7 linked regions of the Homo sapiens genome follow. The protein of the gene in region 1 interacts with the protein of each later gene in a biochemical or structural test. Each region holds a gene or a part of one and is shown on either strand. Other genes may lie near its edges. The genes, in order: PTPN11, CEACAM1, STAT5A, FRS2, STAT5B, ALK and NEDD9.

Region 1 (4,040 bases):
GAGTGCAGTGGCGCGATCTCGGCTTTCAGCAGCCTCGACCTTCCAGGCTCAAGCAATCCTCTCACCTCAGCCTCCCGAGTAGCTGGGACTACAGGCGCGCGCCACCACGCCCGGCTAATTTTTGTATTTTTTGTAGAGATGGGATTTCACTATTTTGCCCGGGCTGGTTCCCAACTCCTGGACTCAAGCGATTCGCCCGCCTCAGCCTCCCAAAGGGAAGTGCTGGGATTTCAGGCGTGTGCCACCGCTCCCACCCCAAAGTAGTATTTATTGTAATTATTATTATTATTTTGAGACGGAGTCTCGCTCTATTGCCAGGCTGGAGTGCAGTGGCGCGATCTCGGCTCAATGCAACCTCTGCCTCCCGGGTTCAAGCGATTCTCCTGCTTCAGACTCCCAAGCAGCTGGGACTACAGGCGCCCCCCACCACGCCAGGCTAATTCTTGAATTTTTAGTGGAGACGGGGTTTCACCATGTTGGCCAGGATGGTCTCGATCTCTTGACCTCGTGATCCGCCCACCTCGGCCTCCCAAAGTGCTGGGATTACAGGCGTGAGCCACCGCGCCCAGCCTATTATTATTTTTTTAGGCAGTGTCTTGCCCTGTCGCTCAGGGTGTAGTGCAGTGGCGTGATCACGACTCACTGCAGCCCCGACTTCTCGGGCTTAAGTTATCTTCCCGCCGCAGCCTCCACGCCCGGTTAGTTTTTTGCATTTTTTGTAGAGATGAGGTCTTGCTTTTTTGCCCAGGCTGGCCTCGAACTCCTTGGCTTAAGCGAACCTCTTGCCGCAGCCTCCCAAAGTGTTGGGATTACGGGCGTGAACCACCGCGCCCAGCCTACTATCTTTATCTTACAGAAAGAAAAGAATGGAGGAAACCGAGGCTCGGAGACAGTAGGTAATTTCCCCAAGGTTCCACAGCTAATGAGTGGAGCGGCGATTTGTGGAACGAAATGAATGAAATCGATGTGGCAGCGGGCCCGGACGGGTCGGTGGCGTAGACGCGGAGCGCGCAGCTCACACCTGGCGGCCGCGGTTTCCAGGAGGAAGCAAGGATGCTTTGGACACTGTGCGTGGCGCCTCCGCGGAGCCCCCGCGCTGCCATTCCCGGCCGTCGCTCGGTCCTCCGCTGACGGGAAGCAGGAAGTGGCGGCGGGCGTCGCGAGCGGTGACATCACGGGGGCGACGGCGGCGAAGGGCGGGGGCGGAGGAGGAGCGAGCCGGGCCGGGGGGCAGCTGCACAGTCTCCGGGATCCCCAGGCCTGGAGGGGGGTCTGTGCGCGGCCGGCTGGCTCTGCCCCGCGTCCGGTCCCGAGCGGGCCTCCCTCGGGCCAGCCCGATGTGACCGAGCCCAGCGGAGCCTGAGCAAGGAGCGGGTCCGTCGCGGAGCCGGAGGGCGGGAGGAACATGACATCGCGGAGGTGAGGAGCCCCGAGGGGCCCGGCGCGGGCCTCGGCCCGGCCACCGCCGCGTTCGGTTAGCCCCGTCCGGAAGGGGGCGCCCCGGCCGGGCTTCGGGCTCCCGCCCCGGGTCGGGGTTGGGGGCCGGTTCCCTCCTCGTCCCCTCGCCCTCCAGGGGCCGGGGGCCGGCCCCACCGCGCCCCCACCCCTCGGGTCCCCATTCATTTCCTGCCTCCCCGAGTTCCGGCTGCGGCAGCCCCGGGGATGCCCGTCAGGCCCGGGGCAGGTAGAGCCGCCGAGGGAACCACGGGTGCCAGCGGCCAGGCTCAGCGCCGCATTCCTGACCCATTGCCTCATGAGAATTGCCTCATGGTGATTCCGAAATAACCCTGCTCACTTGGGGAGGCTCCTTGGGACACGAGAGGGGAGTTGCGCGGGGCCGGGCCCCCAGTGGTCTAGTCGTTCTGGCTCACTGTGCCACTTTCGTGCATTTGGGGACTTCACGCAGGACCCCTGACCCTTTTATATGCCTCTTTGTGTCTTCTTTTCCTCCTACCCCTCACGTGCCAGAAATGGAAAAACTGACTGTATCTGCAGCCACTAGAAGTATTTCCTTCCTCTGCGATCTTCGCTTTGGGAGATGGAAAGGAAGGGAGCCGCATCTCGTTATTTAATCCTTCACTGCAACCTTAACAGTCAGGTCACTTTACTGGTACCCGTTTTATGGATGAGGAAACCGAGGCCCAGAAGCAACATGCTAGTAAATGACAAGATTTGAAACTTAGGAGGATTAGTGAGTTAATGAGATCCTTTGAAAGGTCAGGGTAATACTACTACTAATAGCTAACATTTGCTTAGTTCTGACCACAGCCCTATCAGATGGCTACTATTATCCCCATTGTAAAGATGAGTAAACCGAGTTTCAGAGGTTAAGTAAATTGCCTAACCTCACAGCTAGTAGGTGGTGGAGACAGAATCCCTACTTTTAATCACTATGTTGCTTCTATTATTTTGTAACTATTGCTAACCATTTGTAAGCCTTAATTTTGTTGTCAAACAGTAGTGTGACCTGTTGTTTTCAGATAGTGATCCTGCTATTTTGTATAGTCACTCTATATACCACTCACACTTAAGACCCATTGTCTATTCTTTTCCATGATTGTTCAATTATGGTCACTGTCTCAGACATTTAAAAAACGATTCAAGCTATTGAGGCTATTTGAATGAGATTTTCTTTTCTTTTTTTCTTTTTTTTTTTGGAGACGGAGGCTCACTCTGTTGCCCAGGCTGGAGTGCAGTGGCGCAATCTCGGCTCACCACAATCTCCGCCTCCTAGGTTCAAGCGATTCTCCTGCCTCAGCCTCCCAAGTAACTAGGACTACAGGCGCACCACTATGCCCGGCTAATTTTTGTATTTTTAGTAGAGACAGGGTTTCACTATGTTGGCCAGGCTGGTCTCAAACTCCTGACCTCGTGATCCGCCCGCCTTGGCCTCCCAAAGTGCTGGAATTACAGGCGTGAGCCACCGTACCCAGCCTGAATGAGATTTTTCAAAATATTAGGAATGTCTCCTCCAAACACACCTGGCATGTTATTCATACATGGATCTGGAATTTAAAAAGGGGAGAAAAAGAAAACTGAGAACTCGTAGGAAGTGAGTGACTTGGACAGGTCGGTTGGCAAGTGCTTACAGATCTGGGTAATATATAACTGCATTTCAACAGAACAGTGTATAGCCTCAAATGTTCTAATTCTTTAGGGAGCTTTTAAATAAACAGTTGTCTATTCTTTAATCTGTCAAATAGTCATTGAGCCTTTTGTTCCTGGTGTCTGCTCTTCCAGACAAGTAAGGATCTGCTGCTTTAGGAGACATCAGACGGGGCTGGGGGTTGGGAAAAGGTCTGGGTAGTAATAGACCCTACATTGTCCAGTTTGTTCATTTAGAAGCATAGAAGTGTGGGCATAGTCAAAGTAGCAAGTGGTAAAGATGACAGTTTGAAATGGAGTAATTCCTTCTCCCCTCCAGCCCTGGTATTATGCACCACCCAAAAAGCCGGGTTATGAACATAATACACATAATTTTGAATGATTCATTATTTTTTGGATTATAAGCCTGTTTTATTTGTTAACCAGCCTTAATGAGGTATAAATGACATGCAATTAATTGCATATATTTAAATGTACAATTTGATCAGTTTTGACATACATATACACTTGGGAAACCACCACCATAGTCAAGATAATGAACACATCTATCACCCCTGGTAATTTTGCCTTATGTTCTTTATAATCCTTCCTTTGTTCTTAGGCAGCCACTATTCTGCTTTCTGTCACTATGTATTAGTTTGCATTTCCTAGAATTTTATTTTTAAAAATTTTAAAATTGTTTGAATAGAGATGGGGTCTCACTGTGTTGCCCAGGGCAGTCTCAAACTCCTGGGTTCAAGTGATCCTCTCACCTTGGCCTCCTGAAGTGTTGGGATTATAGGCATGAGACACCCTGCCCAGCCCTAGAATTTTATTATTATTGTTATTATTGTGTTTTTTTGAGATAGGGTCTCACTTTGTTGCCCAGGCTGGAGTGCAGTGGTGCAATCACTGCAGCCTTGTTTTCCTAGGCTCAATCCATCCCCCCTCCTCAG
Region 2 (4,051 bases), on another chromosome or scaffold:
GGGGTCCACAGATGCCAAATAAGGCCCCTGGAGTAGAGGAGAGGTTAAGACTGTGGCTGAAGACAAATCTCCTGTAACTGATCTTCCAGTTACGGTCTGTGTGACCTTGATATAGTGACTGTATTTATTGCCATGTGGCTCAGTTTCCCCTCAGTGAAATAGTATAAATGGTTAATGGTTTTGGCTTATCTTGTGGTCTGTGAATTAACCTTAAAATATTTATAATTATTTGACCTCAGCTCTGCATAGGGGAGCTGCCCAAATAAACAATCTTATTTTATTTTATTTTTTTGAGATGGAGTCTCGCTCTGTCACCCAGGCTAGGGTGCAGTGGTGTGATCTTGGCTCACTGCAACCTCTGCCTCCCAGGTTCAAGCAATTCTCCTGCCTCAGCCTCCTGAGTAGCTGGGATTACAGGCACGCACCACCATGCCCGGCTAATTTTTTTGTATTTTTAGTAGAGACGGCATTTCACCATGTTGGTCAGGCTGGTCTTGAACTCCTGACCTCATAGTCCATCCACCTCGGCCTCCCAAAGTACTGGGATTACAGGCGTGAGCCACCGCTCCCGGCCGCAGCATCTATTGTTGTTGGATTCCCTGAGAGTGCCTCTCAGCCTGATCCCTGGTGGACAAGGAGCTTTCAGGAGCATCCTGTCTCCTCTGTTCCTCCTCCTGGGGATGGTAAACTTCCTATGGCATCTCCTAAGCCCCCAGGGCAGTTGGCTGATGGCCTGGGGAGCTTGTCCATCTGTCCTCTCCAGGCTGAGACTAAGGTGAAGGATGAGGCTCCATCCTTGCCCAAATGAGGCTCTAGTGCCTGAACCCTGGCTGGTTACCAGCTCCAGGAGCCACAGCCCTCGGATAGCTCAAATTCTTGTTCCTAGTCAGCCCTGCCCAGGAGGCCACAATCTAGCCCTGGCCCAGGCTCCTCAGGGTCACCAGGAGTTGAGAACCTTGGGATAGTGTTTTGGAGCAGGGGATTCCCAGGGCTGAGCTTGTCTGTGAGGATCCCAGAAGGCCCTTCAGGCCAGACCCTGACTGAGTCCTACTGGGTCTTTCTTAGGGACATGTTCACCAGGAGGGTCCCGGGGGGCTAGATTGAGACTGGTCTCCCCTCGATAAGTTACCCACATCAGATTGTCCTTCCTCTGAAGCAAATGTCTGCAGGATCAGGACTCCAGAGTAAGACATTCGGTATTTTGATGTCTGTCCCATAGTGTGTCCTGCACTAGATGCTCAAACCTTAACATGGGGTATAATGCAGAGGAGGACACAGGCACAGCCCAGGCCTGACAATCCCATGTGTGGGAAGTAGAACTAACCCCCCAACACCCAGAGGTCATGGGGAAATACTCACGGTATACATGGAACTGTCCAGTTGCTTCTTCATTCACAAGATCTGACTTTATGACTTGTAGGGTGTAGAATCCTGTGTCATTCTGGGTGACGTTCTGGATCAGCAGGGATGCATTGGGGTATATTGTCTCTCGACCGCTGTTTGCGGGCCCTGGGGTAGCTTGTTGAGTTCCTATTGCATATCCTACAATTTGACGGTTGCCATCCACTCTTTCCCCTTTGTACCAGCTGTAGCCAAAAAGTTGCTGGGGCAGATTGTGGACAAGGAGAAGAACCTCCTTCCCCTCTGCAACATTGAATGGCATGGATTCAGTAGTGAGCTGGGCAGTGGTGGGCGGGTTCCAGAAGGTTAGAAGTGAGGCTAGGAGAGAGGAGAGAGCATCAGTCAATATTGGGACCTATGCATTAGGGTAGAAAAATGGGGCCTTGGGTCCTGAGCAGGTGTCTTCACCCCTCCACCTTGGAGTGTGTGTGTGTGTGTGTGTGTGTGTGTGTGTGTGTGTGTGTGTCCTACTGGGTCAAGGTCAGCAGTGTGACTCCCATTCCCTTAGTGCCTCTGACCTTGTCATTTCTCTGGAATGCCCTTCCCCAGGGATCCGCATGGCTCCCTCCCCACTGCCCTCAGATCTTGATCACATCAGGGTGCTCTTGGGAGATCCTTTCCCTGACACCTCCCCTAGAGACCCTGGGTATTCCCTTTCTGACCTTTTTCTGCTCTGTTCCCTCCAGGGCTCTTGTCAACACCTGACCTCACATTCTAGATCTCTTTGCTTGTCTGTCTTCCCCACCCATGAGAGCGTGAGCTCCGTGAGGGCAGGGATTTGTGTGATGTTGGTTGCACCCCAGTGCCTGGGATAGGCTGCAGACTCCTGTGGATGAGTTAGTGAGCATTCCCAGGGCTCTTCATGTCCTGGGGTTTATTTGCCAATATCTGAGGTTGGTGGCTCAGGGCTCTGTTTAATGCCCCTTTTAAAATGTTTTCCTTAATTGTCACGCTGACTTAAATTGTGATTATTGTCAGCAGTTTTTGAAATTTATTGCTCATTGATGATTCAGTTGGAAAAGGTAAAAAATGGGAGATTGTTTATTCACTAACAGTTTCAGATCACTGAGACTTTCCTTTTATGATCTCTATCCCTTTCATGTCCTCTCTCCTATTTGGCTCCAAGAGAAGCCCTCTGTCCCCTCTTAGAGCTCCATCCTCCCCAGAGGACCCTAGCCATTCTCTGTGCGCCCTCTTTCCGCCCCTTCCCAGGGTGTCCTCCCCTCACCTGTGAGCAGAAGCCCCTGCCAGGGTACACGCACTCTGTGAAGTGGGGCTGAGAGGTGCCCCATGGTGTCTCCTGCTGGCCCTGTCTTCACCTGTGGAGGAGAGCTTGGGCTCCAGGAACGCTTCGAGCACGGCTGCTCTGTCACCTCTGCTGTTTTCCACTCTCTGTGCTGAGCCTCCTCCCTGGGGCCCAGAGCTTTGTCTGATCATGTGTGCTGGGGCGGGGTTTGTCCAGGAAGCTCTGTTTCCTCTCCTCTCATTCCTACCTTTGTCCTTACTTTCTCTTTCCTTTCTGTCTACATTTTGGTTTCCCAGACCACACTTTGAGAATCAAGGCTGATGAGACCTCTGTCCCCATCAGGGGAGGAGGATCCCCCCTCTCCAGCACTGACCTCTATTGTGTCCTGGCTATGGGTCTGTCAGCAGCACACAGAGAACCCTGGCATATCCAAATGTGGTAATTATTTTCTTTGCAACACAGTGAGCTGCCAGGTCTCCCCATGCTCTTCAGTGTGCTGGGAAGGTAGGAAGACACCCAGCAGGAAGGTGACAGAGGTGGCTCTGGGGGATGGAAAGGGGCTCACTGGGGGATGACTGGGGAGGGACCAGCCCTCTGTCTCTAGTGTCACCAGCCTGGCCTCTAACCCAGGGACAGAGACCCAAGTCCAGGGGTCTCAGGTGGAGCTGCAGCTCCCGGATATGGAGGGGGAGGTGTCCTGTGTGTCCTGGGAAGAGAGGACTGTGATAGAGGGAGGTGGGTGGCTCTGGGCTCTACTGTCCTTGGGGAAGACTTCAGGGGGACCCTCCCTCCCTTGAGCTGAGGCTCAAGGCCTGTCCATGTTCTCCCTGACCATCCTGGGTGGTCTCTGTCCTCTGCGAGGCTGATTGTCCTGTGGTCACCGCACCTTCCCCACAGGTGGTGCCAGGAGGGAATGGGGAGCTGCACAGGGACCCCTCACAGAACAGGGTCCTCAGAGGACCCAGGAAGGGACAGAGCAGGTACATGGGAGGGCCTGGAAGGGTGTTTTGGAGCAAGGGATGGAAAGTGGGCTCTACCTTCACCTCCTTAGCAAAGCCAGGTTCATGACCAGGGGAATGTTTCCTGAGTGTTGTCTGTGTGCAATGTCTCCCCCTGGAGGGCAAGACAAGGCCTGCAGCCTTGTCAAGGGCTGCCCCAGGGATGCTGACCAGGGTCTACATGATGTGAGCTGGCCCTGACCCCTGGGCAGATGTGGGCTCTGACCTCCAGGCTTCAAGGTCAAGTCACCCCAGGTCCTGTTCACTGCGGGTCCCCAGGCTGCCCAGCTCCATGCGGTGCAGGATGAGCCCAGGGAGAGGACGTGAGTTGTCCAGAGGACTTCTGTCAAGATTGGAGAGAACTGTCCACCAGGGGGATGGGCTGCCTTAGAAGGAGCCATCTGTC
Region 3 (3,500 bases), on another chromosome or scaffold:
TACAAAAAGTTTTAAAATTAGCTGGGCATGGTGGTGCACGCACTTGTAGTCCCAGCTACTCGGGAAGCTGAGGTGGTAGGATCATTTGAGCCTAGGAATTTGATACTACAGTGAGGTATGATTGTGCCATGGCACTCTACCCTGGGCAACAGGGTGAGACCCTGTCTCCAAAAAAATCACACAAAGTATGGTGTTGTAGCTGTGTTCTAGAACCTGTGCTACGCACTGAGGACAAAACTGTGATCCCAACAGAACTGGGCTGTCTTCTCGCCCAGCCCCTTGAGCAGCAGAGCAGGCAGCAGATGCTGGGAAATGCCTGATGGTGTAGCCATGTGGCAGGGGGATGTGTAGGGCACCGAGAAAGGGGGTCTTCTTGCAGGATTAAAGAAATGACAGTCTTAGGCTCCTGGTGGAATTGGAGGTAGCTAGTGATAGGGAGGGAAGTAGCAGAGAGGGAGGACTTTCAGGCAGAGCCCATGTGCCACATCCTGAGGGAAGAGTACAGAGACATTATGTGTAGCAGAGAGTGGAGAAGTAGTGTCCAGTGTCAGGGCAGGCCACCCACAGCGTATGCAGGGGATGAATAAATGAGTGAATGAGTGATGTGGAAGACATGGCCCCATCCCTTGTCATCCAATTAAAAATGTTTACTGAGGCTGGGCGAGGTGGCTCACGCCTGTAATCCCAGCACTTTGGGAGGTAGAGGCAGGCAGATCACTTGAGGCCAGGAGTTCGAGACCAGCCTGGCCACCATGGTGAAACCCTGTCTCTACTAAAAATACAAAAATTAGCCAGGCTTGGTAACGTACACCTGTAGCTCCAGCTACTTGGACCTCTAGTCCTAACTACCAACTACTCTGAGGCAAGAAAATCACTTGAACCCGGAGGTGGACGTGGCAGTGAGCCAAGATTGTGCCACTGCACTCCAGCCTATGACAGAGCAAGACTCTGTTTAAAAAAAAAAAAAAGGCCAGGCACAGTGGCTCACGCCTGTAATTCCAGCACTTTGGGAGGCCCAAGCGGGCGGATCATGAGGTCAGGAGTTCGAGACCAGCCTGGCCAACATGGTGAAACCCCGTCTCTACTAAAAATACAAAAATTAGCTGGGCATGGTGGTGGAAGCCTGTAATCCCAGCTACTCAGGAGGCTGAGGCAGGAGAATTCCTCAAACCCAGGAGGTGGAGGTTGCAGTGAGCCGAGACTGTGCCATTGCACTCCAGCCTGGGCAACAAAAGCAAGACTCTGTTTCAAAAAAAAAAGTTTACTGATTTCCTACCATGTGATCTGGGGTGAAGATGAAGACAAATGACCTTCTCACTGCCTTTGAGCTTGCATTGCAGCTGGGGAGACTGATGATAATACACTTTAAAAGATCAGGCAGGGCCAACCAGTGATAGACACTGGAAAAGAAGTTAAGACAGAGCAATCTAGGCTGGGCACAGTGGCTCACGCCTGTAATCCCAGCACTTTGAGAGGCTGAGGTGGAAGGATCGTTTGAGATCAGGAGTTCGAAACCAGCCTGAGTAACATGGCAAAATCCAATCTCTACTAAAAATACAAAAATTAGCCAGGTATGGTTGTGTGCGCCTGTAGTCCCAGCTACTTGGGAGGCTAAGGCAGTGGAATCACTTGAACCTGGGAGGTGGAGGTTGTGGTGAGCTGAGATTGCACCATCGCACTCCAGCCTGGGCAAAAAGAGCAAAGCTCTGTCTCAAAAAAAAAAAGAAAAAAGAGCAATCTGCTAGCGTTGGAGATGTGTTTAAGGCGGGGGTGAGGAAAGGTCAGCTTGGTAAGCTTCTCCAGATAAGTGGTCCAGGAAGGCCTTTCTGGGGAGCTATCTGGGCTGAGACCTGAAGGAGGAGAAGGCTAAGAGTGTTTGGGGTGACAGGAAGAGCAAGGGCCAATGTCCAAGCCTGGCATGTTCAGCAGACAGCCAGGGCCAACGGGGCTTGCATGTCCTGAGTGAGGGGAGAGGAATTCAGTGAGGCCAGGGGGGTGGGTAGGTGTTGACCATAGGGATCCTCAGAGACTGTGGTTGTGATTTTTATCTTAAGTGCATTAGAAGCTATTGGAAGTCCCCAAAGCCCTCACATCAATCTTGGTATCGAGGAATTTCTAATGATAGATCCAGACCTCACCACTGGAGACCTTGCCTTGGGTGCTGGGCACCAGGTTGATGGAGAAGTCAGTAACCCAGAAAGACGCCAAGAAACACTCTTAGGGGATACGGGGCAGGGGCTGCTGGCAGGGCTGACCTGAGCGAAGACCCCAGCCCGAGGTGTGGACAGGACCATGCTCCTGGCCTGGGGCCCATGTGGAGCTGGGACCCCCCTCTCCTTTGCAGCGAGTGCAGTGGTGAGATCCTGAACAACTGCTGCGTGATGGAGTACCACCAAGCCACGGGCACCCTCAGTGCCCACTTCAGGAACATGGTGAGGACGGGGCCCACCCTCGGAGGGCAGGTCTGCCCAGAGCTGAGTCCTTGTAAGCAGCCGCCATCTCCCTGTTCCCCTGTCACCTCCCACCCTGCAGTCACTGAAGAGGATCAAGCGTGCTGACCGGCGGGGTGCAGAGTCCGTGACAGAGGAGAAGTTCACAGTCCTGTTTGAGTCTCAGTTCAGTGTTGGCAGCAATGAGCTTGTGTTCCAGGTGAAGGTGAGACCCCCAGCCCTCCTGCCCCCACTGCTCCAGGTCACCCAAGAGGTGGAGGGGCCTGCCTCAGGACTCCTGGCAGCAATGCCATCGGACAGCCTGCTTTGACTCTGTGGGTCCCTGTTTGATAGGTTATAATCTGGGACTAACCCAGACAATTTAGGCAATGGGCTAAGAAGAAGTCGGTTGTAGTTTTTGTTTGTTTGCTTGTGCCTACATTTTGCTGGGAGGGGCTTGTGTTTGGAACTGTGGGTGAGGAAAGTGGGTTGGGACCAGGTGTGGTGGCTCTCACCTGTAATTCCAGCATTTTGGGAGGCAGAAGAGGGAGGACTGCTTGAGTCCAGGAGTTCAAGACTAGCCTGGGCAGCATAGTGAGAACCCGTATCTACAAAAAAAAGAAAAAAGTTGGGCATGGTGGCCTGCACCTGTAGTCCCAGCTATTCTGGAGGCTGAGGCAGGAGGATCACTTGAGCCCAGGAGGTCAAGGCTGCAGTGAGCTGTGATTGCACCACTGCCCTCCAGTCTGGGCGACCGAGCGAGACCCTGTCTCGAAGAAAATAAAGCAGATTGCGGCCATGGGTGGTGGGTCTTGCCTGTAATCCCAGCACTTTGGGAGGCCAAGGAGGGTGGATCACCTGAGGTCAGGGGTTCGAGATCAACCTGACCAACATGGAGAAACCCCGTCTCTACTAAAAATACAAAATTAGCCAGGTGTGGTGACACATGCCTGTAATCCCAGCTACTTGGGAAGCTGAGGCAGGAGAATCGCTTGAACCCGGGAGGCAGAGGTTGTGGTGAGCCGAGATTGCACCATTGCACTCCAGCCTGGGCAACAAGAGTGAAACTCC
Region 4 (3,500 bases), about 43 Mb from region 1:
CTGATCGGATCTATCATACTGAAGAGTTTATACTGTTAAACTGAAGATAGTGGAGAGCCACTGAATAATTTTCAACAAGCTTCAATCAAATTTATGTTTGTAATGTTTTGTAGCTTCTGTGCTTCCTTCCCTCCTCCTTTTTCATATATTGTCATATTCTATCTGATTATTTCCCTTGTTTGTAAGTGATGCTTTGGAGTTTTCTTTGTCTGCTCAGTTGGAGTGTTCTTAAACACTCAATGTCAGGTATATAACCACTTACCTCTAACCTTCTATGGGAAAGGAGTATTAAATAGACATGCTATATCAGTTTTGCCAGTATTCTGTGTGTTACTTTACTGCTTAATTTTGAGTTGTCTTTCTCTCTTACCAATGCGCTATTCGAAATTTGATTTTGTTTTAATTACCAATGAACTCTTGTCTTGTGGAGACATAAAAGATACTACAATGAGTAACAACAGTCAAAATACCTGCCAAGCCAGAAGTTCACCATCCCTTTGGTGATTTTTTATTTAAAGAACAAGCCAGGTCTGGTAGTCCTGTAGTCCCAGCTACTCAGGAGGCTGAGGCAGGAGGATCACTTGAGCCCAGGAGTTTGAGCCCAGCCTTGGGCAACATAATGTCTGCCTGCCTGCCTGCCTGCCTGCCTGTCTCTGTGTCTCTGGCTGTCTCTCTCTCTCTCTCTCTGTCTCTCTCTCTCTGTCCCTCTCTGTCTCTCTCTCTCTCTTTAAAGAAGGACATGAAATTCCTGATAAGCCACAAAGGGTTAATTTCATTATTAACTCTTGAACAAAAATTAATTATTTAGGTAATATTATATATGAGACCTTAAGTTGGTTTTTTTTTTAGATGATTTTAGAATAGGTGACCTTTGCAAATTTAACTAGAAATTTGAGATTTGTTTGACATTATTAATGCCTCACAAAATTTATTCTCATTATTACTGAGTAAAATCAACTAGCTAGTTGTATAAAATCTAGCTGCAGCCATATACCTTGTTGGACTTAATTTTCTGCATCAGAATAATGTTTGTGTTAGATGATTTCTAAAGTCTTTTTCTGTTTACAGTTTTTGTATCCTTCATCTAATAAATTTTTCCAAATTATTTTTCATGTAGTGCACACATGGTCTTCTGAAGAAGCCATGGGTAGCTGTTGTAGCTGTCCAGATAAAGACACTGTCCCAGATAACCATCGGAACAAGTTTAAGGTCAGTAAAACTGGTTGAGTTATATATCTTACTGCCTAGTTGGGTGTTCTTCTTTTATTTCACTTAACATATCTTATTTCTGGCTTTTATCACCAAACCTTTCTATTTCCCTTTCTTTCCACCCTGTCTTTCTTGATTTAATAAATGATGACAACATTTTCTTACAGTATGGAATTTTTTTTAGTTTTCCTTCGGTCCTCTGTATCTAATTAGCCATACCGTTCTGGTAATACTGTTTTTAAAATGCCATTTTACGGGGTGCCTTTTCAATCTCATCACTATCTGTCTTTCAGTTATTATTTTCATGTGTGCCTGTGTGATTTCTTAACTGGACTCTACCTCAAGTCACCCTCTGATTCATCCTGTAGTCACCATCAAATTAATCTTCTTCTCTCATCATTCACTAACCTCTTTGCTAAAATTGTGTGGTGTTATTTTACCTGTAGGCTAAATGCTGCTATAGCTGTTTTGTGTCTGATAATTTGACCTCGATCTGTTACAAAGAATAGCCTTGATCACACAAACCTAGGTGTAAGTCTGTCACTTTATAAGCTTTGTGACCTTGGGCAGGTTACGTTATTACTGAGTCTTAATTCCATTTTTGTACAGTGTAGTCTAGGATTGTTATGAGGGTTAAATACATGTAAAGCTCTTTTCCTACTCCCAGGGGAATAGTAACTTCTCCCTAAATGTTACCTACTGCTCTTAGTCTTTGGATGTTTTCTGAAGCTCAGCAGTACAAAGCCTTTCCTCATATGAACTCTGTGCCAATCTATTTTGGTGTCTTTGAAAGGTACTTTTTTTGTTCTGCTTTAACATTGTGTCTTTATGATGTCCCTTTATCTCCTGACCCACTAGATTTCCCCTCTGATTTTATTTTCTGCGTAAATTTATTTATACTAGCGGTCCAGCTAAAGGCCCTCCTCCTCTTAAATGAAGGTGTCTCAACAACCTTAGACCACACTTCCTGCCTTCTGCAGCCTCTGTTGCATTCCTTTGTCAATTAATCATACACTTTTGTGGTATTGACTTTGTGTTTCTACATTTTGTTTCCCCAGTGGGAATGTAAATTTCTTACAGATCTGAACTGGGTGTTACACGGCTACGTAGTCCATGCCTGATACACACATTGGTTGATGAATGAACTAACAAATTACAAATAACTAATTAGCAACAATGCATTTTCCTGACGAATTGGTGACATATTTGCATGACTGTCACCTTCTTTTTTTAGGTCATTAATGTGGATGATGATGGGAATGAGTTAGGTTCTGGCATAATGGAACTTACAGACACAGAACTGATTTTATACACCCGCAAACGTGACTCAGTAAAATGGCACTACCTCTGCCTGCGACGCTATGGCTATGACTCGAATCTCTTTTCTTTTGAAAGTGGTCGAAGGTGTCAAACTGGACAAGGTAGAACCTTTGTTTTTTTTCCCAAATATTGTATTTGAAATTGTTTTTTCAGCTATTCTGTATACAAAGATTAAATTAATATTTTTCTTCTGAAAAAAATCCCAAAATAAACAGATTGTTAAGGAAAGATATAGTATACTGTGTATTAATTTATCAACTGTTTATTAAGCACATTGTCTATGTGAGAAATTTTGGCTCATGTCAACTTTAAGATTTTTCAGTAAATGATTGGGTCAGCTAAATTGACTAAGTGTCTTTATCATTGATTTTTTTACTACCTACTACTTGAATGGCCTTGACAAGTTACAGGACTTCCATTGAATGTTAAATTTCTTCTCTATAAAAGGGAAATGGTAATACCTATCTTTTAATTATTGTAATAATTAAACAAGATAACAATTGGAAAACACCTAGGGACTTTCCAAGGGGCCTGTTACATGGCAAATGATCACCTTGGAATAGTGAGTTGGGCTCCCCCTGCTGTTAAGAAACAGACTAGCGTAAGTGCGCAGGTCTTGATTTCATTAGCTTTATTTTGGGCCATCTCCCTTAGATGAATGAAAATTATTCTGTGAACTTTTGGCGGGGGTTTGTTTTGAAACAGAGAATAATCATTAATTTATCAGATATTTATTTAAAAGGGATTTCTGACTCGGTGCGTAGAATGCTTACTTTACAATTCTGCTGTTTGTCAAGTGTTCCTATAGTTTTTTTTAAAGGTATGTTAACTATTTTTCCCTTTTGGTTTATATTTGTAGGAATCTTTGCCTTTAAGTGTGCCCGTGCAGAAGAATTATTTAACATGTTGCAAGAGATTATGCAAAATAATAGTATAAATGTGGTGGAAGAGCCAGTTGTAGAAAGAAATAA
Region 5 (4,003 bases), on another chromosome or scaffold:
CCTACTCTGTGCAAAGCACTGTGCCAGGTGTTGGCCCAGAGTATGGGACTGCAGCAGTGGCCTGGGTAGCGGAGAAGGGTTTTTTGACCAGCTGGAGACCTTTGTGGCTGGTGTCATTCTGGAGGTGAAGAGAAGGCCGCTGGAAAGAGCTGCCCAGGGAGGACTATGGGAGAACTTGCAGCTCTGGGCCATCTCTGGACATGAACGTTTTGCATACACACAGGGGAGCTCTGTGTGTCTGAGTGGGGGCGGGAGGGGTCCTTCTCTCTCTTTTGGCCCCTGCAGCTTGGCTTCTGGAGCTTTCCTATGTCTTGCTTTAGTGCTAGCCCTTGGAGGGTTGCCAGGGAAACCGCTGGCCAGCTCCGGGAGATAGACGTAGCAGAGGAAAGGAGAGTGGGTGACTCAGCCTGGCTTCCCACAACCGCAACCCCCTCCTCAGCACGTGGAAAGGATCTGGGGGACCCCCTTCCCCTGGATCCTACAGATGACCCTGTTTATTCTTTCTTCTCTAGAGAGAGCAGTCCCTCCCGCAGCTCTGACTGGTGGGAGCCAGCCAGATTTTCCCAGGAAGGGAACCGGCCCCAGGCGCCCCGTCCCCCGTAGGTTCACCCTGGAACTCGGACAGGTGAATTCGGCCTGGGCGAATGTGAATTCCTGCCGTGCCCATGCAGGCGGCAGGAGCCCTGGCTGAGACGCCCTCCCGGGGGCAAACCCAGGATAATTATTGATCGGGGCCCCTGTGGACTTCTGACCTCGGCCTCGGCGGGAGAGGACCCGGAACGCGGGCCTGGGCTCCCAGGGAGAGAGGTGGGCGGGCCGCGGAGGGGGCCAACCAAAACGACCACGACAGTGCGCCCTAGCCCTGCTAGTGGTGGTCGACCCAACCCAAACAAAGCAGCATGTGCTTGCGGTGCGGCGTCGGCTAGGGAGCCGAGCCGGGAAGACACCCCACCGCCGCAGAAAGGGGGTGCGCGCGGCGCCGGCACCGGCACCGCCGAGCGCGCCGCCACCTCGGGTGTGCCGAGGGGGTCCGGGTCCTTCAAGGGCGGTCGCGGAGGGGGCGCGAGGGACAGCGGGCTAGCGAGCGCGCGCCGGGCGGAACCAGGAAGCGGGGCGCGCTCCGGGTTGCCAGCGGCGCGCGTCCCTGGGCCTCCGCGCGTGAGCGGCGCGCGCGCCCCCGCGGGCCCCGGCGGGAGGAGAGTCGGCGGCCGGAGCCGTCACCCCGGGCGGGGACCCAGCGCAGGCAACTCCGCGCGGCGGCCCGGCCGAGGGAGGGAGCGAGCGGGCGGGCGGGCAAGCCAGACAGCTGGGCCGGAGCAGCCGCGGGCGCCCGAGGGGCCGAGCGAGGTAGGAGCTGCGGGGCGAGCCCTGGGCCCGGGGCCGGGGGAGCCAGGCCGGGGAGCCAGCCCGGGCGGGGCCCGCGCTCCAGCCGCTCAGCCGCCCGTCAGGGCCGCGCCGCCGCCATCACTCCCGGGCCGCGGTGGTTGCGCGCTGGGCGAGGGGCGCGCGCGGGGAGAGGGGGTCCGGGTTGGCTGCCGGGGAGGCTGAGGGCAATGCGGGGTGCGCGAGGGGGACTTGCGAACGCCGCGGCGCCGCGGGGGGCGTGCGCTTTAAAGGCTGCGTGCGCGTGTGCTGAGTGGGTGTGTGGGGACCCCGCGCCGACCCCATAGGAGCTCAGGGGGCTGCTGTCAGCCGCCTCACACCTTCACGTTGCAATTCCGAATATCCCCAGCCGTCTTCCTTGCTTTAACTTCTTTCTTTCAAAAGAGGTTCCCGGGACTCCGGGGATGGGATGAGCCTGCGGGGGTGCCTGGTGCGGTGGGGGGTATTAGCAAAGCTTCAAGAAACAGGGCCTTATAAGGAATCAAGACAACAAATACGAACGTTTCGATAAGACTCTGGGGGGCGGGATCCCACATCAGGACCCGCCAGGCCTGGGCTCGTGCGTGTGGCCGTGGGATGCAGTGTGCTTTTTCTTTCTAGTCAGGGATAAAGGGTTAAAAGTGCTCCTGGTGTCGGGGGGTAGATATGGAGAGTCGGAAGGGGAGTTGTATCACAAAAGCTGGTCTGAGGCTAAAGGAATCTGGCAAGATGGTCGGGGTGAACAAAGAGGAAAGAACTCACACGGAGCAAGAGGCGGTTGCAAACACTTGTAGCCAGCAGTGATGGAAAAGCCAAAGAAGAAAACCAAGTGTCAGCTTTTAGAAAGACGGGATTAATGAAAAGCACAAGAATTTTAAAGACTAAAAGAGATACCGATTCTCTCTTTGCCAAAGAGCCAGAGTCAGTTCTTTTCTTCTTGGTCCCTGTGATCCCGCCATACCTCGTATCAAATAAATAGTGCCAAAAGTGGGTCAAAGAATGTTAGAGCTGGAAAGGAACCCAGCGATGATGCCATTCTTTTATTGTACAAATGAGGAAACTGAGGCCCAGATAGGTGGAGTAAGTGGCCTGCTCAGGTGACACGGCTGTTTGTTGAGTATCCAGGGATTGAAACTTCAAGGACTCTGAGATTCGTGCTCTTCCCAAAGCATCGTGCAGTATACAGATCTTTGCCTAGATACAATTCCATACATTTTCTCTGCAGTGTCCTCAGGGAATGCCCTTTGAAAGGGCCAGCGTGACACTGAATATCATACTTGGGCTTATGTCATTTTTTTCAGTCTTCAAGTGGTGTTTATGGTCTGCTTGGATCTTAGGTTTCCAAAGCTGTTGGATAGCCGCCTGGGCCATAATAAGCTTTCAGCTGTTGGGTCTACATTATTTCAAATAATTTTGTTATCTTTCAATTAAGGTAATAGAACTGTGCCTCTCTCCCCAACATTCTATTGTTGTCCATTTGCTTATGTTATATTGCGTTATGTTCATTGCCTGTGAGTTCCTAGGTGAGGATGTATTTTATTGAGTGTGCCTTTCATGTTTTAAAATTTCATTTTGTAACACTGTAAATATTGGAGTGGTTCTGATCACTTCAAATGGGGAGAATCTTATTGATTGATTTTATTTTAAGGCTTTGGGTTGTTTTGTTTATTCATTTGGGTACCAGTTTCCATCTCATGGAAGATCACAGTTGTTAGAATGGACATGGCTAAATAAGAGAAGGGGCTGCTGATTTTAAGAAAAACTTCCTATGTGACAATTTGTGGTATCTGTTACGTTTAATTCAAACAAGTCCACACCTTGGGTCAGGTAAGCGCGTTATCTAGGAGATGACTTGTTTGCTACTGTAGCCTCTGGAAGATGAAATTTCAAGCTCCAGATTGAGACACAGGGAAGGAATGGAGAGGTTTTTTTTTTTTTTTTTTTTTTTTTTGTAAAGCAAACCATCAGAAAAAAAAAGTTGATTTCTATCACCAGTAGTTTGGTTATTGCATAACTTGAAGCTAAACTCTGCACAAAATAATCTTTGCTATATACCCAACTAGGTAAACTATCCCACCTTCTCATCAGTTCTCACCTTTTCGGTGCTTGTATTTTTTGCCCACGGGATATTAATATGGATTGTGTTCAGAAATTTAAGGTGTGTACTTCATAGTATGTATGATTGTAGGAGAAAAATGTGCTATCATCGTTTGGAGTGTTACAACATAAATATTTTGGTCAACACTTCCTATCCTGCTCTGACTTTTCATCTCATCTCCATTTTCTTCCTCTCTTGATTGTTTTTATGTCATTTACATATGTAAAAGCCACATCAAGACTAAAGTTGCCATTTATTACTTTTTGATACTTAAGTCGAGTTTTTTCAAATCATAGTATTGTTAGTATTCAAATTGTCTGTAATTTTTGTTAGGCTTATATATTATGAATCCATTTGTTGTGGTTTATTTGGCTTGTTGTTATGTAGGTAGGTGACACAGGTAGTCTTATTGTAAAAGGAAGACGTTATAGATAGGTAAATAACATGCTCAAGATTAGATGCAGGTTACAGGTGGAATCGAAGGAAGCCTAACTATTTTCGTGCCCTACAAAAATGTCTGTATCTCATAAAGTTATTCACAGA
Region 6 (3,500 bases), on another chromosome or scaffold:
GGTATTGACAACCACACCAGGTCTCCTTTGAGTTGGTCCCAAGTCAGAAATAACCTCCCCCACTGAGACAAAAACTACTTGCTCCTTCCCATCGCTGGAGACCTTGTCACACTTTTCTTTTCAGGGGACCATGAGCAGGACCAGACTCATCCCGATTTGACAGGCTTTTAGCAGTAGCTTTTGGGTGAAGGGAAATTTAACAGGGATGAATATCAGTGGCGGGATGTTGGTTTGAAACATGAGCTGCACAACTATGGGGTGAGGATGGAAGGTGAAACGAAAGTGGATCTGGAAGAGATGTGGGGGCCGCAGGTGACCAAACAACAGGGTGCGCTGTAAGTAACACCCTCTGAGGCTAAGTTACTTCCTTGTGGCCCTGAGGCACTGGGCTCACAGTGGGGAGGGGTCCTGTGCCCTCTGCTGGCCAGACCACACGGAGGTATCGTGCTTGGTACTGGACACTACATTTCAAAAGGGACATCGATAGTGGAACACATGCAGAAGAGGGACACTGGTGGGGCGGGGGAAGAGACACAAAACTGCATCTTGTATGAACTGCTGCAAACAAATGGGTTATTTAGTCTGAAGAAGAGTTAAAGGAGGAGGATGGGGCCAGGTGCGGTGGCTCACACCTGTAATCCCAGCACTTTGGGAGGCCGAGGCGGGTGAATCACCTGAGGTCAGGAGTTTGAGACCAGCCTGGCCAAAAGGTGAAACCCTGTCTCTACTGAAAATATGAAAATTAGCCTGGCATGGTGGTGGGCGCCTGTAGTCCCAGCTACTCAGGAGGCTGAGGCAGAAGAATTGTTTGAACCTGGGAAGCGGAGGTTGCAGTGAGCCGAGACCACACCATTGCATTCCAGCCTGGGCAACAACAGTGAAACTCCGCCTCAAAAAAAAAAAAAAAAAAAAAAAAGAGGAGGAGAATGGGAGCACTGTCTTCAAACACTGCACATGCACAGCTGCTGCTGTAAGGAAACCTAGGAGAGGAAGGTTAAGGCAACAGGTCCCCAGCTCTGAAACTGCCCAAGGGAACAGAGAACCTTAGGAGCAGTAAGATCCCTGTCACTGGGCATGTTTAAGTGGAGGCAGGATGGCCCCTTGGTGGGGGTGGTAGAGGGCTTATTCTATAGTAGAGGATTTTTAAGACTCCTTCAGGAGCCATGACCCACCTTTCACACAGTGGTCAGAGCACTCGAGCTGTGGCAGGTAGGGGAGGGACAGAAAGTTTACAAAACCGAATCCAGGGTGTTCTGGAACCCAGAAACCATTTGTGGTCATGGGCCAAATCTCAGGCTATGGGCCCCTCTGCCTCCCCTGGCCCTGCCCCCTTACCAATGCAGGAGACGCCATCCTCAGCCAGCACCGTCCCGTGGTCACAGAAGCAGATGACCTTGTGGCTTTCAGGGTCCATGTGACATTCGTCTACCTCACAGTGACTGCAGTTTAGATAATGCTTAATATTCACTTCCCCGTGGCCTTCCATCACTAGTGACAAGGAGGGAGGGTCAGTCTTGGGCCGAGCCTGCCTCCCCACTCCCAGCCTCAGTACTATGTCTCCAGGTGGTCACTGTGGGTGCTCTGGTGGTCCCTGTTCCTAGGTCCCATAGCCACTGGAAGCACAACTGTGTAGAAGAGTCTTCCTGTGCATATAGAGAGTGCAGCGGAGGCAGCGGGCATGGGTGTCTATGGATGTTTGCTTTTGAGTCAGTGGTGGAGAGAAGCCCACGCACATGATCTTTAGGTTGGCTGGTGCAGGTATTGGGCTATTACTGTTACATTTCCTAGGATTCTGCCTCTGCATTCATATTAAAGCACACATCCTGACTTCTGGAAAATGTGGTGACCTGCGCCATAGGAAGCTTGCCTGCCAGGGACCCATAATTGTGCCTCTGTATCCTGGATACAGGTCAGAGACTCTGAGGTTTTAGCTTGGTGGGAGGACTGACCTAAGCAAGTTTGTTCTGCTGCCTGGCAGAGAAGCTACCTTTTAAAGCTGGGGTGTACAGGATGCCCAGTGGACTGATGAAGGAAACCCCATCTTCCCCATCCATTTCGGGGTCATTGTTTGAGGCTGCATTGCCGCCTGAGTAGCAAACCAGAGCAGAGTTTAACATGGGGGGTGGGTGCCAAAATCTTAACACACACACACGTCAGTGGGGCATGCAGCTCTGGCCAAAGTTAGGGGGTCACTGGGGACCTCAGGGGCAGGGATGCGGGGAGGGAAGGGAGGCTCAGGGCACAGAGGCTGCATGTGGGATTTGGCTCAGTAGATGCTGGGTGTGTGGCTAATTTCCCCTCAGGTCCAGGCCAGCTCCCACTCTGCCGGTGGCCCACTAAGAAGTGGTTAATGTGAGCAAGAGTCCAAAAAGTTCTAGTCTTTCCAGGCTGGGATATGCCCATGGTGCCTCTCCCAGGACTGGTCAGGATGGTAGCACTGAAGAGTTGCTCTTCAGCCCCATTGGGTCAGGGTTGGGGTGTGGCGGGCTGTGCGGATTGCGGGAAATGAGCCCCTGTGCCCTGAGGCTCCCGTCCCTCCTTTCATCTGGGGCTGGGCTATCTTTGGGCTCCCCCCTCGGGCTCCTCCCACCCACCCAGCTTGGAAAAGAAGAGCATGTGGTTAACACAAGCATCTTACACACAGCGTCAATGCAAAACACAGACACGAACACCACAGAGCATGCATGCATTCGTCCTAATCTGTGGGGAGCGGGGAGCCATCGTCTCCCAGCCTCTCAGCTTCAGAAGGCTCTGCTGACTGTGCTCTGAAGCCCAGACGAGGCAGCTGGGGTCAATGGGCAGCTGCTTGCTGAAGGGCTGGGCTAAGCCTGCCTGCAGTTGCCCTCGGGAATAGCTCCCATCAGCAGGCACAGCGGCGCCTTTCAGGAAGCTGGTGGGCTGAGGTAGGGAGCAGGAGTAAGGAGTCCATGAAACCACAAACCAGCCCCTTCAGGAGCTGGCTTGGCCAGGCCATCCAAGGGAGGCTGGGGGAGTCCTTATGGGTGACTCAGAGACTAGTCTGGCAAGCCAAAGCCTCTTTATCATCGACTTTGGGGGACATCAAGAATCACATGGGATCTTGATGCTGTCGCTGAGGAAGCCTGGAGGCAGGGTGCTGGCTCGAAAGCCAGCACCCTGCCTCTGGCTGGTCCAGGCAGGTCGAGAGGGAGGCGTGCAGTCACATCACAGTCCACACTTGGGCAGGCCAGGGGAGGGCAGGGGAGGGCAGGGCAGGGAGGTGAGGAGCCTAGGACTAAGCAGGGAGGGAGTGACACCTTGAACACGAATCATCTTTACCTATATATCCTCCGCCTCCTCCACCTGAGGAGCACCCCCCTCCACCCCCTCCGAAACCCCCTCTTGTCTCCCACCCCCACTTCTTCATGGCCTGGGGGCAGGAATGTCCTCCGGTGGCACCCTCCTGCAAAGATTTTCCGGCCCAGAGCAAGGAAGTGTTATCATTCCAGCCACCTCCACCACCTGCGGGAAGAGATAGGGAA
Region 7 (3,500 bases), on another chromosome or scaffold:
CAGGGCTTAGGGAAAAAGACTATGACTTCCCCCCTCCCATGAGACAAGCTGGAAGGCCGGACCTCAGACCGGAGGGGGTTTATGACATTCCTCCAACCTGCACCAAGCCAGCAGGGAAGGACCTTCATGTAAAATACAACTGTGACATTCCAGGAGCTGCAGAACCGGTGGCTCGAAGGCACCAGAGCCTGTCCCCGAATCACCCACCCCCGCAACTCGGACAGTCAGTGGGCTCTCAGAACGACGCATATGATGTCCCCCGAGGCGTTCAGTTTCTTGAGCCACCAGCAGAAACCAGTGAGAAAGCAAACCCCCAGGAAAGGGATGGTGTTTATGATGTCCCTCTGCATAACCCGCCAGATGCTAAAGGCTCTCGGGACTTGGTGGATGGGATCAACCGATTGTCTTTCTCCAGTACAGGCAGCACCCGGAGTAACATGTCCACGTCTTCCACCTCCTCCAAGGAGTCCTCACTGTCAGCCTCCCCAGCTCAGGACAAAAGGCTCTTCCTGGATCCAGACACAGCTATTGAGAGACTTCAGCGGCTCCAGCAGGCCCTTGAGATGGGTGTCTCCAGCCTAATGGCACTGGTCACTACCGACTGGCGGTGTTACGGATATATGGAAAGACACATCAATGAAATACGCACAGCAGTGGACAAGGTGGAGCTGTTCCTGAAGGAGTACCTCCACTTTGTCAAGGGAGCTGTTGCAAATGCTGCCTGCCTCCCGGAACTCATCCTCCACAACAAGATGAAGCGGGAGCTGCAACGAGTTGAAGACTCCCACCAGATCCTGAGTCAAACCAGCCATGACTTAAATGAGTGCAGCTGGTCCCTGAATATCTTGGCCATCAACAAGCCCCAGAACAAGTGTGACGATCTGGACCGGTTTGTGATGGTGGCAAAGACGGTGCCCGATGACGCCAAGCAGCTCACCACAACCATCAACACCAACGCAGAGGCCCTCTTCAGACCCGGCCCTGGCAGCTTGCATCTGAAGAATGGGCCGGAGAGCATCATGAACTCAACGGAGTACCCACACGGTGGCTCCCAGGGACAGCTGCTGCATCCTGGTGACCACAAGGCCCAGGCCCACAACAAGGCACTGCCCCCAGGCCTGAGCAAGGAGCAGGCCCCTGACTGTAGCAGCAGTGATGGTTCTGAGAGGAGCTGGATGGATGACTACGATTACGTCCACCTACAGGTAAAACAGCGGAACTCATAAAACACCTACACTCACTCACATGCAGGGAGCCTGAGAAAGATGCCTATAAGGATGTCGGGTTGGACTGCCAAAGGAGAGAACATAATTAATGTTAATCTACATGGTTCACAAATTGGAGGGAGTGTCGTAGAGTAGTAAGAACGCTGGGCTGAGAGTCCTGAGTACTCACTCAGATCTAGCCCTTTCTCTGACGTTTACTGTGTGACCAACTTATTCAACCTCCTTGGGCCTTAATTTCCTCATTTGCAAAATGAATGGGGTAAGGGGTTGGATTAGATCCCGTTGATATACCTCAGGTAAGAGGAGACTCACCAAGTAGGATAATAGGCCCTCTAATAATAATACCAGCTCCACTTCTATTTGTGTTTTATGTATAGTTCCATGCAATATTTTATTTGAAAAAAAAGTTTTCGTCATTAAGAAAAAGAATAGAAGACCTTTGCACCAGAGAATTTCTAAGGCCCCTGCTAGCCCTACTCTGTGTATGTGTGTGTATAATTGCTTTAAAACTTAGCCCCATCTCAGACTTACCTAGAGGACCACTGGGCATTAGCTAGCTGTCCTAGGAGCTTAATCTGTGTATGGGACATTGGATAGTCACAGTTGGCCTCCTACAATTGGGAATTCTACCAAGCTCCAAGTTGACCTGGGATTCCGACAGCTTTCCCTTCCACTTTGAGGGATTAAAACATTCTACTGGCTGGGCGCAGTGGCTCACGCCTGTAATCCCAGCACTTTGGGAGGCTGAAGCAGGTGGATCACAAGGTCAGGAGTTCAAGACCAGCCTGGCCAATATGGTGAAACCCCATCTCTACTAAAAGTACGAAAATTAGCCAGGCATGGTGATGCACGCCTGTAGTCCCAGCTACTTGGGAGGCCGAGGCAGAAGAATCACTTGAACCTGGGAGGCGGAGGTTGCAGTGAGCTAAGATCGTGCCACTGGACTCCAGCCTGGGCGACAGAGCGAGACTCTGTCTCAGAAAAAAAAAAAAAAATCTACCAAGATCCATTGTTTAGGACTAGGCTTACTATCTTATTCTGCCATTCTTTTAATTTGACTGAGAGTCACAGATTATACTGAGAACTACGTAACTATTATGCCAAATTCCCTCAAGCGCAAGAAAGTGTGGCAAGGAGAACTGAGCCCCACCTGATGCTGAGGAAGGAAGTGGAGAGAGAGAGGATGGAGGCATTGAACATTCATCTTACTGGTTGTCTGACCCTGCACAGTGGGAACTACTGCCTTGGAGCAGAAATCTATAGATGATTTGAGGGAACTAGAAGTGAGAGGTGGACCACATTTAGACCTGCATTTGGGGGTTTACAGGTTCACATATAATCTATGAGAAAAGAACCCAGAGACTATAAAAAGAACATTATATATGAGATTTGAAGGGAATCATGAGTAGCTCTCCGAAAATTTTAAGGTGCCCCAGAAAGCTGGCACCCTATATGGCAATGGGCTTTATTTTTCTGCCACCCCTGTCGTCTAGGGTTCACAGTGCCTCACTGGGCATTTGAGATGTTGCCAAGGCAGTGGAAAATAAAGAGTATTTACTCATCCGTCAATGAAATTGTTAGCATAAGTGAATCACAGTGATGACATAATATGTTCTTTATGTTGAAAATTAACAGGGTAAGGAGGAGTTTGAGAGGCAACAGAAAGAGCTATTGGAAAAAGAGAATATCATGAAACAGAACAAGATGCAGCTGGAACATCATCAGGTAAGTTCAATCAGAGCAAAAACTGCTTGGCATTGGAAAGATTTCCCACCTAGCACTAAGGAAAGGTATCACTTCAAGAGATTATGATTTTGATTCTTCCAGCTCACTGGCAGGAATCAGCTCCAAAGCACGGAATGGGGTTTAAAAGCAAAGAGAAGGTTTATGACCTTGTTAGTTCAACTGGGTGTACCTGGGTTCCATCTAAACGGCAATTTTTTTAAAGGCTAAACCTGCATATCTAACATATGAGGACTATTTGGGTTAAGGCATTTGGTCTCAAGAAACAAGACCCATTCAAGCTAGCCTAAGCAAGCAGGTTTATAGTAAAGCCACAGTAGGGGAATTCAGTAACAGAAAGTGAAGATAGAGCCAGGTCTGGGGAGAACTAGAACTGTAAATTATCTCTCCTTCTTGTAGTTCCTTTGCTTCTTTCTATCAGTCTACTTCACTCTCACCTATTTTCTGGTTTTCTCTAATTATCTACTCATTTGGCTCCCCTGTAACTTTGCAGAACCCATAAATGGCCACTCAGAACTTCTATAGATGGCT

What was found.
Region 2: the proteins of PTPN11 (region 1) and CEACAM1 form a complex in vitro, tested with the Homo sapiens proteins (one study listed by BioGRID).
Region 3: the proteins of PTPN11 (region 1) and STAT5A form a complex in vitro, tested with the Homo sapiens proteins (one study listed by BioGRID).
Region 4: the proteins of PTPN11 (region 1) and FRS2 interact in a test that uses a peptide from one of them, tested with the Homo sapiens proteins (2 studies listed by BioGRID, with this or other methods).
Region 5: the proteins of PTPN11 (region 1) and STAT5B form a complex in vitro, tested with the Homo sapiens proteins (one study listed by BioGRID).
Region 6: the proteins of PTPN11 (region 1) and ALK form a complex in vitro, tested with the Homo sapiens proteins (one study listed by BioGRID).
Region 7: of the proteins of PTPN11 (region 1) and NEDD9, one has a biochemical effect on the other in vitro, tested with the Homo sapiens proteins (one study listed by BioGRID).

Annotation. Positions count from the first base shown.
Region 1 is NC_000012.12:112,417,707-112,421,746, forward strand, and holds the start of PTPN11 (tyrosine-protein phosphatase non-receptor type 11), read left to right. Parts: upstream 1-1,240; 5' UTR 1,241-1,405; coding exon 1,406-1,419; intron 1,420-4,040. UniProt on the Homo sapiens protein: Acts downstream of various receptor and cytoplasmic protein tyrosine kinases to participate in the signal transduction from the cell surface to the nucleus. Positively regulates MAPK signal transduction pathway. Dephosphorylates GAB1, ARHGAP35 and EGFR.
Region 2 is NC_000019.10:42,525,682-42,529,732, forward strand, and holds the start of CEACAM1 (cell adhesion molecule CEACAM1 isoform 1 precursor), read right to left. Parts: upstream 2,801-4,051; 5' UTR 2,694-2,800; coding exon 2,630-2,693; intron 1,720-2,629; coding exon 1,360-1,719; intron 189-1,359; exon of another isoform or gene 1-188.
Region 3 is NC_000017.11:42,301,998-42,305,497, forward strand, and holds part of STAT5A (signal transducer and activator of transcription 5A), read left to right. Parts: intron 1-2,344; coding exon 2,345-2,432; intron 2,433-2,532; coding exon 2,533-2,655; intron 2,656-3,500. UniProt on the Homo sapiens protein: Carries out a dual function: signal transduction and activation of transcription. Mediates cellular responses to the cytokine KITLG/SCF and other growth factors. Mediates cellular responses to ERBB4.
Region 4 is NC_000012.12:69,567,888-69,571,387, forward strand, and holds part of FRS2 (fibroblast growth factor receptor substrate 2), read left to right. Parts: intron 1-1,117; 5' UTR 1,118-1,143; coding exon 1,144-1,209; intron 1,210-2,443; coding exon 2,444-2,630; intron 2,631-3,388; coding exon 3,389-3,500. UniProt on the Homo sapiens protein: Adapter protein that links activated FGR and NGF receptors to downstream signaling pathways.
Region 5 is NC_000017.11:42,273,592-42,277,594, reverse strand, and holds the start of STAT5B (signal transducer and activator of transcription 5B), read left to right. Parts: upstream 1-1,203; 5' UTR 1,204-1,347; intron 1,348-1,961; exon of another isoform or gene 1,962-4,003. UniProt on the Homo sapiens protein: Carries out a dual function: signal transduction and activation of transcription. Mediates cellular responses to the cytokine KITLG/SCF and other growth factors. Binds to the GAS element and activates PRL-induced transcription.
Region 6 is NC_000002.12:29,225,587-29,229,086, forward strand, and holds part of ALK (ALK tyrosine kinase receptor isoform 1 precursor), read right to left. Parts: intron 3,481-3,500; coding exon 3,298-3,480; intron 2,087-3,297; coding exon 1,988-2,086; intron 1,489-1,987; coding exon 1,336-1,488; intron 1-1,335. UniProt on the Homo sapiens protein: Neuronal receptor tyrosine kinase that is essentially and transiently expressed in specific regions of the central and peripheral nervous systems and plays an important role in the genesis and differentiation of the nervous system.
Region 7 is NC_000006.12:11,187,669-11,191,168, reverse strand, and holds part of NEDD9 (enhancer of filamentation 1), read left to right. Parts: coding exon 1-1,205; intron 1,206-2,861; coding exon 2,862-2,951; intron 2,952-3,500. UniProt on the Homo sapiens protein: Scaffolding protein which plays a central coordinating role for tyrosine-kinase-based signaling related to cell adhesion. As a focal adhesion protein, plays a role in embryonic fibroblast migration.